2 separate regions of the Homo sapiens genome follow, and region 2 is linked to region 1. The links come from fine-mapping of genetic effects on gene expression. A gene starts in region 1. The other region holds a variant in brackets. All regions are shown on one strand. Distances are from middle to middle. Region 1 holds the start of NMI (N-myc and STAT interactor). Region 2 has its middle 25 kb from the start of NMI.

What was found.
Region 2: its variant is fine-mapped to the expression of NMI in adrenal gland (GTEx, PIP 0.96).

What each region holds. Positions count from the first base shown.
Region 1 is chr2:151,287,436-151,292,818 of GRCh38, forward strand. NMI (N-myc and STAT interactor) reads right to left here and starts at 2,233. Exons shown (of 8, transcript NM_004688.3): 1 at 2,158-2,233. RefSeq lists enhancers at 782-951, 1,752-1,801, 1,822-1,871, 2,262-2,341, 2,402-2,821 and a silencer at 2,002-2,201.
Region 2 is chr2:151,311,949-151,317,331 of GRCh38, forward strand. No RefSeq gene overlaps it. Among named protein-coding and RNA genes, the nearest start is that of NMI, 25 kb to the left of the region's middle. The variant T/A (reference allele first, on the strand shown) is at 3,297.

The sequences.
Region 1 (5,383 bases):
CAACTCACTTTCCCGTCCTATTTAGTCAATTCCTCAACCCAGTTCCCTAACCACACTGAACACTTGGATAGTTCCTTTTCTTTCCTCTGTCCCTCAAACTGTCACATCCTTCCTCCTCTCCCAAACTTAATCTCCATCTAATGAAATCTTACTGTTCTTCAAGGTCCATTCCAAATTTTCCCCAAGCTCCCGAAGCCTTTTCTGATTCCCCCAAAGGATGTTACTCCCCCTCCTTTATCTCCTTTGCGGCGCTTTAATTACGTGTGTACCTATGTCATTTTCCGTGACACATCAGTAAACATGTTGAGGGCTGGGACCATGTCTACTCCTCCCTGCAGACATTCAGAGCACTTTCTCAGTATAAGCTTACACACTGAAAACACTCCATTTAGAGAATTATGTGGTATCTTGACTTAAGTATTTGTTGTACTCAGGACATCACATGTATATGAAGTCCTCTTATTACATTTCAGAAGACAGAAACTGCAATGTTATTTAATTGCTTTTTATTTTTATTATTGTGACAATGCCAATATTCCAAGAGCCTGTAATAAAGGCTCTCAGCATAAATGGTCTACTATCTAACACCACCAGAACCCTTTTGGCATCTTTTGCATCTGGATACTTTTGCTCTATGCATGAGTGGGATGTATGGTCATTCCTTTTATGCAATCATGTAGTAGGCAAAACAATGGCTCCCTCAAAGATGTCCACATCTTAATCCCAAGAATCTGTGATTATGTTAGTTTATATTGCAAAGGAGAATTAAGGCTGCAGATTGAATTAAGGTTGCTAATCAGCTTGCTTTTAAATATGGAGAGCATCCTGGATTATCTGTGGGAGCCCAGTGTAATCATGAGGCTACTTAAAAGTGAAAGCGGAAGACAGAAGAAGAGTCAAGAGTGAAATGTGACCCCGGAAGAACTTTCAGAGGCGCAATGTTGCTGGCCCTGAAGATGGAGGAAGGGCTGCTGAGCCAAATAAGGTAGGTGGCCTCCGGAAGATGGAAAGAGGATTCACCCCAAGAGCTTCCAGAAAGGAAGGCAACCCTGCCAACACTTTGATTTTAACCCAGTGAGACCTCAGTAGGACTGCTACAGAATCCTAAGATAGTAAATTGTGTATGTGAGTGTGTGTGTGTGTGTGTGTGTGCGCGCGCGCGCGCGTTCCTATGTGTTTAAGCCACTAAAGCCATGTAATTTGTTATGGCAGCGAATTAAAAAAACTGATACAAATCAACATCACCGTATTTCCGTAATACAATCATATAACTGCGGTGCCAGGCCGTGTAGAATCGAATCTTCCTATATGCATGCGTGGCAGCAAAAAGAAAGGCAATAGAACGTCTGCCTGTTGTACAGACTGGAAACACAGTATTCTCCTTCGGATGTCTCCTTCAAGAAAAACCTTGCCTATTCTGACACGCCAGCCATGACTGCACAACACTGCCCCTACCAAGAATCGTTTTCTTAAGAAATCCGTTTTCCTAAGGACTATCTCCAGAGACACTCGGAGAAAACAGCGAGGGCCGGGCGCGGTGGCTCACGCCTGTAATCCCAGCACTTTGGGAGGCCGAGGCGTGCGGATCACGAGGTCAGGAGATCGTATCCATCCTGGTTAACACGGTGAAACCCCGTCTCTACTAAAAATACAAAAAAAAAAATTAGCCAGGCGTGGTGGCGGGCGCCTGTAGTCCCAGCTACTCTACTCGGGAGGCTGAGGCTGGAGAATGGCGTGAACCCGGGAGGCGGAGCTTGCAGTGAGCCGAGATCGCGCCACTGCACTCCAGCCTGAGCGACAGAGCGAGACTCCGTCTCAAAAAAAAAAAAAAAAAAAAAAAAGAGAGAAAACAGCGAGGAAACACAAATAACTTTATGTTTCAATTTCCTCAATGAAGCAAAGCAAACAAGTGACAAGGCTCGAAGCCCTGACGGCCCAGAGACTGCACAGCGGGCCCAGGAGCAGGTGCGCCCCCTCGAAGGCGGCGTGGCCTCCGCGACTCGGCTGCGGGCAGCTCCCGGGGAGCAGGGTCTCAACTCCGGCGCTGTCCCACTTCCGTCGGCGCTGAGGGCTCCCACCTCCCTTTCCACCCCCGGCTCTCCAGCCCGGGACTGCCAGCGGCGGGAGTGGCAGCCGGGGAAGGGACTCCCCACTCACCCGCGTCCGCCCGCCGAGCGCAGCTCCCCAAGGCCCAGCGCGCCTGCCCTTCCCGGAAAACAGCAGCGCCTGAAACGCCGGAACCCCGGGAGGCACTGGGAGGGGAAGGCCCGGGTTCTCGAAACTGTCGCTGCCTCCTGCAGAAGCGCCGCGGGAGAGCTGCGGGGTCTTCCTGAGGAGGTGGCCCTCGCAGGAACAGCTGGGTTCCCCGCGAAAAGAAAAAGACAGTGAAAAAGAAAACTGCTTTAACGGCGATTTTTCTTTAGCATTTAACCAATGCTCAAATACTAAACATGGTTGTCTCCAATGATTAGTCACTAACAGAAAAAAAAACTAATTTCACTTTCGATTTTTAAAAAGGGGTGGTTTTGCGGAGGAAAGCAGAAGTATACCTGAAGTTTCCGTACACACTAATTTTAGGGAACGCTTTCTAAAACCAGTTTTTTGCATGTATTTTATAAGGTATGTTGGAAAAGTGGATAGAAACCAAATAAAGTCAAAGCAGGAATCGCTCTTCATCAGATTGTAACTCTTTTGTAATTTCTTAGTCATTGTAACACTAGTTGACAAATGTTTACAGTCAGCACAAGATCGGCGTTTCTGTGTCTTTTGTAACATCCCCCGGGGCCATGAAGTTGGGAAAGCTGTGGTGTTCCTGTTGGTTTCTGTGACCCATGTCCCTTGAAAGTTTTCTTATAATCTCTTGTTTTGTTGTGGAGCTTGTAAATAAATACTTCACTAGGTGTGAACTTTTCCTTTGAAAATTCAAACATCTGGTTTATTTCAAGAACTGCAGTGTCTCTTAATCCCACACAAAGAACCACCCCACAGCTGCCCCGGCTCATAAATACAGATGTGGGAAGAAAATGAGTCAAAATTATTTCAAGGCATAAATTATAGGTTATCATGCTACCTAGTCACATATAATAACTGATACAGTGGTCTAAAATAGTTTAACAAAAGTAAAATTTCTTTGTATCAAAAAGGTTGATGGGAACCAGTTTAAAGTGGTGACATTTCTCTTTTTTTTTTTTTTTTTTGAGATGAGTCTTGCTCTGTTGCCCAGTCTCCAACTCCTGAGCTCAAGCAGTCCTTCCACCTCCACTCCCAAGTAGCTGGGATTACAGGAATTCACGACCGCACCCAGATTTTTTGTACTTTTAATTTGGGTGCTGGGGGCAGGTATCTAACTGTTTCCCAGGCTGATCTTGAGCTCTGGCCCAAGTGATCCCACCACCTCAGCCTCCTGTAAAATGGCATTTCTAAGTAAAAAAAACGACTTCTTTGTGCTTATCAGACCAGTTAGAAAATACAAAAACTCCTTCTGCTGCAACTTGAGAAAGAATTACTTTAGTTTTACCTTGAAATTTTAGAGGGAATATGAACTCTCGAGGTTATTTAGTTGAACCTCATTTCTTCTTATTTTTATTTTTTACAAGAAGATACTAAAGGACAGGACCATGGCCAGAACAGGACTAACTTAATATATTGACTCAGATTCTGTTTAAAAGGCAAATGATACAGGTGGAGGGGAAGTCTTTTTGGACACCTACATTCTAAAGCTGAGACATGTACTAACAGTCTGAATTTAACTCAGCTTCAAATCTGGTATTCTGCAAAGTGTTAGAGATCTGAAGATGAAGAGTTGGCTCCTGGACATACTATTAATAATTGTAATTGCTAACATCTACTAAGAACTCCTGGACATTTTATAAACCTTTTTGTTTTGCCAACAACAATATTAGATATAGGTATTATTCCCATTTCTTTTCACCTGTCTGAAGCAGGCAGGAAGGTATTATCCCCATTTTGCAGTTGAGGAAACTAAGGCATAAAGAGGTGACCCAAAATCAAGCAGTTAATATATGGTGACAATGATATCATACTCTACTCTCAACAATATCTCCAAACTGTGTCCTAGGGTACATGGAGAACATGGAATTTTATGGCCCAATACAATTAGGAAATGCTGCATTCTGAATCCACTTTTGGAAATTCACAATGCACATTGGCACATTAAGAGTTCCAAGAAGTATTGCAGGGAAAAATTAAAAATTTGTGCATATTAAAAATTTTAACTTTATTCAACCTTGAACTTATCAAATCAATTTGAGCGATATATTCTTTTTTTCAAGGAACAGTTATTAAAATCTTGGGGAGTTTCTGATGGGACCTTTCGAGGAATGCTCTAGTAAATTACGCCCTCTCCTAATATAAAAGTTATTTATTGATGTTATCATGCACTCAATAAATATGTTGCACATGAGCTGCAGCACTCTGTGCCTTGGATATCTCATGTAAATCTACACAGATGTGAGGTGAATATTATGTTACACATTTGTCTCCCTGACTACATGGCAATGAACTCCTCCCAGGCTTTCTATAAAGACACACACACACACACACACCAGTATTACATACAGTCTAATGTGTGTTGGAAGGGGTAGGATACCAGAAGTAGTAAAAAACAAAGGAGAGCGTAGTCCCCTCTACCTGAGGAGGTCAGGGAAGTTTCCTTCACAGAAGAGGTGAAAATTGAGTTGATTCATTAAGGTAGAGAAAGTAGACTGAGAAGAAAGATCGGGTGAAAAATCTCAGAGGGATGTGCAATGGACTAAATGTTTGTGTTCCTCCAAAATTCGTATGTTGAAATCCTAACCCCCAAGGTGACAGTATTAGGGCTGGGGCCTTTGGGAGATGATTAGGTCATAAAGGGTGGAGCCTAAATGAATGAGATTAATGCCCTTATCAAAGAGGTCCAAAGGAGTTTGTTGACCTCTTCTGCCATGTGAGGACACAGACAGAAGGTAATCTATGAATCAATAAGCTGGCTCTCACCAGACACTAGATCTGCAGGACCCTGGATCTTAGACTTGCAGCTTCCAGAACTGTGAAAAATAAATTCTGTTGTTTATAAACTACCAGTTTATGATGTTTTATTATAACAGTCCAAAAGGACTAATATAGCATAAAACAAATGGGAGGCACCAAGAGTTTAGTGATTATGCAAACTATGAGAAAGCTACCTGATATCTATTACATGATGATTCTCTTTTAAGAAAAGGCTACTACACCAAGCTTATGCTGCTGTTGCTAAGATTGTGTTGATCTGGTTTGCAGTTCATCCTTGGGGAAACTGGAACACTTATGCCCAGTATTGTGCAAGATCCTGGGGGGATACAAATGAATTCTGTAACTTCCTTCTAGTTTTCAAGAGTGTTCCCAT
Region 2 (5,383 bases), 25 kb after region 1:
TTACAGATTAGTACAGGATCTGCACCTTAACAACCAAATTGTCTTGCCTATCACCCCATGGTGCCAAAGCCATATACTCTCCTATCCTCAATACCTCCCTCCACAACCCCTCCATAACCCATTATTCTGTTCTGGATCTCAAACATGCTTTCTTTAGTATTCCTTTGCACCCTTCATCCCAGCCTCTTTTTGCTTTCACTTGGACTGACCCTGACACCCATCAGGCTCAGCAAATTACCTGGGCTGTACTGCTGCAAGGCTTCACGGACAGCCCCCATTACTTCAGTCAAGCCCAAATTTCTTCCTCATCCATTACCTATCTCAACATAATTCTGCATGAAAACACACGTGCTCTCCCTGCTGATTGTGTCCGGCTAATCTCCCAAACCCCAACCCCTTCTACAAAACAACTCCTCTCCTTCCTGGGCATGGTTAGGTACTTCCGCGTTTGGATACCTAGTTTTACCATCCTGACTGAACCATTATATAAACTCACAAAAGCAAACCTAGTTGACCACACAGATCCTAAATCCTTTCCCCACTCCCCTTTCCATTCCTTAAAAAACAGCCCTAAAAGTTGCTCCCACACTGGCTCTCCCTAACTCATCACTCCGTTTTCATTACACACAGCTGAAGTGCAGGGCTGTGCGGTCGGAGTTCTTACACAAGAGCCAGGACCGCTCCCTGTAGGCTTTCTGTCCAAACAACTTGACCTTACTGTTTTAGCCTAGCCCTCATGTCTGCGTGTGGCAGCTGCCACTGCCTTAATACTTTTGGAGGCCCTCCAAATCACAAACCGTGCTCAACTCACTCTCTACAGCTCTCATAACTTTCAAAATCTATTTTCTTCCTCACACCTGACACATATACTTTCTGCTCCCCAATTCCTTCAGCTATACTCACTCTTTGTTGAGTCTCCCACAATTACCATTGTTCCTGGCCTGGACTTCAATCTGGCCTTCCACATTATTCTGGATACCACACCTGACCCCCATGACTGTATCTCTCTGATCCACCTGACATTCACTCCATTTCTCCTTATTTCCTTCTTTCGTGTTCGTTACCCTGATCACACTTGGCTTATTGATGGCAGTTCCATCAAGCCTAATCACCACTCACCAGCAAAGGCAGGCTATGCTATAGTATCTTCCACATCTATCATTGAGGCTACTGCTCTGCCCCCCTCCACTACCTCTCAGCAAGTCAAACTCATTGCCTTAATTCGGGTCCTCACTCTTGTAAAGGGACTACTCATCAATATTTATGCTGACCCCATATCCTGCACCACCATGCTGCTTTATGAGCTGAAAGTTTTCCTCACTACACAAGGGTCCTCCATCATTAATGCCTCTTTAATAAAAACTCTTCTCAAGGCTGCTTTACTTCCAAAGACAGCTAGAATTATTCACTGCAAAGGCCATCAAAAGGCATCAGATCCCATCACTCAGGACAATGCTTATGCTCATAAGGTAGCTAAAAAAGCAGCTAGCGTTCCAACTTCTATCCCTCACGGCAGTTTTTCTCCTCATCTAGTCACTCCCACCTACTCCCCAACTGAAACTTCCACCTATCAATCTCTTCCCACACAAAGCAAATGGTTCTTGTACCAAGGAAAATATCTCCTTCCAGCCTCACAGGCCCATTCTATTCTGTCATTTCATAACCTCTTCCATGTAGGTTACAAGCCGCTGGTCCGCCTCTTAGAACCTCTCATTTCCTTTCCATCGTGGAAATCTATCCTCAAGGAAATCACTTCTCAGTGTTCCATCTGCTATTCTACTACTCAGGGATTGTTCAGGCCCCCTCTCTTCCCTACACATCAAGCTTGGGGATTTGCCCCCACCCAGGACTGGCAAATTGACTTTACTCAACATGCCTCGAGTCAGGAAATTAAAATACCTCTTGGTATGGGTAGACACTTTCACTGGGTGGGTAGAGGCCTTTCTCACAGGGTCTGAGAAGGCCACCATGGTCATTTCCTCCCTTCTGTCAGACATAATTCCTCGGTTTGGCCTTCCCACCTCAGTTTCTGAGGCTCTTGGTATTTAGTGGCTCCTGGTTTTACCTCAAATCGCCACCCTTAAGTCTATCTAGAAGTGGATAGAAGATCTTCAGTGATAAAGTACCCTCCAATACTTTCACCCTGATGAAGTCCTATTCTTTACTTTTATACTTACTCTTATTCTCGTTCCCATTCTTATGCCACCCTCTACCTCTCCCCAGCTATCTCCACCACACTATCAATCTCAGTCACTCTCTCCTAGCCCTTTCTAATCCTTCTTTAACAAACAATTGCTGGCTTTGCATTTCTCTTTCCTCCAAATTCGAGGAGGCCCTAACTTACTCACTGCTAAAAAAAAAAAAAAAAAAAAAAAAAGGTAGGGGGGACTCTGTATATTTTTAAATGAAGAAGGTTGTTTTTACCTAAATCAATCTGGCCTGGTCTATGACAACATAAAAAAACTCAAGGATAGAGCCCAAAAACATGCCAACCAAGCAAATAATTATGCCGAACCCCCTTTGACACTCTGTAATTGGTTGTCCTGGGTACTCCCAATTCTTAGTCCTTTCATACCTGTTTTTCTCCTTCTTTTATTCGGACCTTGTGTCTTCCAAATAAGAGAATAACAATGCTCCTTCTAACAACCCCACAATATCACTCCTTACCCCAAAATCCTTCTTCAGTTGAATATCTCCCCCTGTAAGTTCCCACGCCACCCCAATCCCGCTCGAAGCAGCCCTGAGAAACATCACCCATTATCTCTCCATACCACCCCCAAAAATTTTCACCGCCCTAACACTTTACCACTATTTTGTTTTATTTTTCTTATTAATATAAGAAGACAGGAATGTCAGGCCTCTGAGCCCAAGCTAAGCCATCATATCCCCAGTAACCTGCATATATACATCCAGATGTCCTGAAGCAACTGAAGTTCCACAGAAGTGAAAATAGCTTAACTGATGACATTCCACCATTGTGATTTGTTTCTGCCCCACCCTAACTGATCAATGTTCTTTATAATCTCCCCCACTCTTAAGAAATTTCTTTGTAATTCTCCCCACCCTTGAGAATGTACTTTGTGAGATCCACCCCCTGCTCCCAAAACATTGCTCTTAACTCCACCGCCTATCCCAAAACCTATAAGAACTAATGATAATCCCACCACCCTTGCTGACTCTCCTTCGGACTCAGCCCACCTGCACCCCGGTGAAATAAACAGCCTTGTTGCTCACACAAAGCCTGTTTGGTGGTCTCTTCACACAGACTTGCGTGAGACAACCCTCACAGGGGAACC[T/A]GAAGGTCTAGATCACAGGAGGAGATTCTGACATTAACTGCAGCTGAGTCAATTTAGAGAGCTGAGTGAAATACAGGGGTAGAGGAAGCAGCGGGATAAGCCCTGTGGGCTCTCTGGGTCTCCGGGGAAGCCATTTCTGCCTTGCCTCACAGGAGTCCTTGGGGAGGGCTGCCAGAGGAACTGGGAAAAGACCACAGGGAAAAGGAAACCTCCAGCTGAACTGTGTAACAATTCCAACAGAATGCAAAATCTCCTGGCCAGAACTCCGGGGAGGGAGTGATTCTGGTGTGCAGACTCCAAAAGCAGGCAGACACGAAAGCCCTGCTTGCTTTTGCAGCTGGGAGACTGGTAGCCTGCAGCAAGTTCTCAGCCCTGCTCGCCCACTGCTGGAAACAGACTTGGTGCTGTTGGGAGTCGGGGGAAAGGTGGGAGTGAGACCAGCCTTTTGGGTTGCATGGGAGCTGGGTGAGGCCTGTGACTGCCAGCTTTCTCCCACTTCCCTGACAACCGGCATGACACAGCAGAGGCAGACATAATCCTCCTGGGAACATTACTCCATTGACTTGGGAACCACACTCCCATCCCCCAAAGCAGCCGCAGCCAAGACCTGCCCAAAGACAGTCTGAACTCAGACACTTCTAGCCCTTCCCCGACCTGATGGTCCTTCCCTATGTACCCTGCTAGCTGAAGACAAAGGGCATATACTCTTGGGAGTTCTAGGCCCCTACCCACCACCTGATCCTCCCTATAATACCACAGCTGATGCTCTCTTGAAAGCACCACCTCCCGGCAGGAGACCAACCAACACAAAAATAGAGCATTAAACAACCAAAAATAAGGACCCTCACAGAGTCCATTTCACTCCCCTGCCACCTCCACCAGAACAGGTGCTGGTATCCACGGCTGAGAGACCCACAGACGGTTCACATCACAGGACTCTGTGCAGACAACCCCCAGTACCAGCCCAGAGCCTGGCAGACCTGCTGAAGAGCTAGATCCAGAAGAGAGATAATAATCATTACAGCTCAGCTTTCAGGAAGCCATATCCATAGGAAAAGGGCAAGTACTACATTAAGGGAACACCCCATGGGACAAAAGAATCTGAACAGCAGCTTTGAGCCCTAGACCTTTCCTCTGACATAGACTATCCAAATGAGAAGGAACCAGAAAAACAATTCTGGTAATATGACAAAGCAAGGCTCTTTAACAGCCCCAAAAAATGACACTAGCTCACCAGCAATGAATCCAAACCAAGAAGAAATCTATGATTTGCCTAAAAAAGAATTCAGAAAATCAGTCATTAAACTAATCAAGGAGGCACCAGAGAAAGATGAAGTCCAAGTTAAGGGAATTTAAAAAATGAGGCCAGGTGCGGTGGCTCACACTTGTAATCCCAGCAATTTGGGAAGCCAAGGCGGTCGGATCACCTGAGGTCAGGAGTTCAAGACCAGCCTGGCCAACATGGTGGTGAAACCCCGTCTCTACTAAAAATACAAAAATTAGCCCAGCGCTGTGACAGGCACCTATAATCCCAGCTACTCAGGAGGCTGAGGCAGGAGAATCACTCGAACCCAGGAGGCAGAGGTTGCAGTGAGCCAAGATTATCCCATTGCACTCCAGCCTGGGGGGACAAGAGCAAGACTTTGTCTCAAAAAAAAATAAAAAAATTAAACAATACAAAGCTGGGCACGGTGGCTCACTCCTGTAATGCCAGCACTTTGGGAGGCCGAGGCGGGTGGATCACCCAAGGTCAGACATTCGGGACCAGCCTGGCCAACATGGTGAAACTTTGTCTCTACTAAAAATACAAAAAAATTAGCCAGCCATGGGGGGCAGGTGCCTGTTATCCCAGCTACTTGGGAGGCTGAGGCAGGAGAATTGCTTGAACCTGGGAGGTGGAGACTGCAGTGAGCCAGGATCACACCACTGCACTCCAGCCTGGGCAACAACAGTGAAACTTTGTCTCGAAAAAAAAATATATATAAAAAAGCATACACGAAATGAGGGGAGAAATCGTCAGTGAAATAGATAACATAAATAAAAAATAATAAAAGCTTCAGGAAATAATGGACGCACTTAGAGAAATG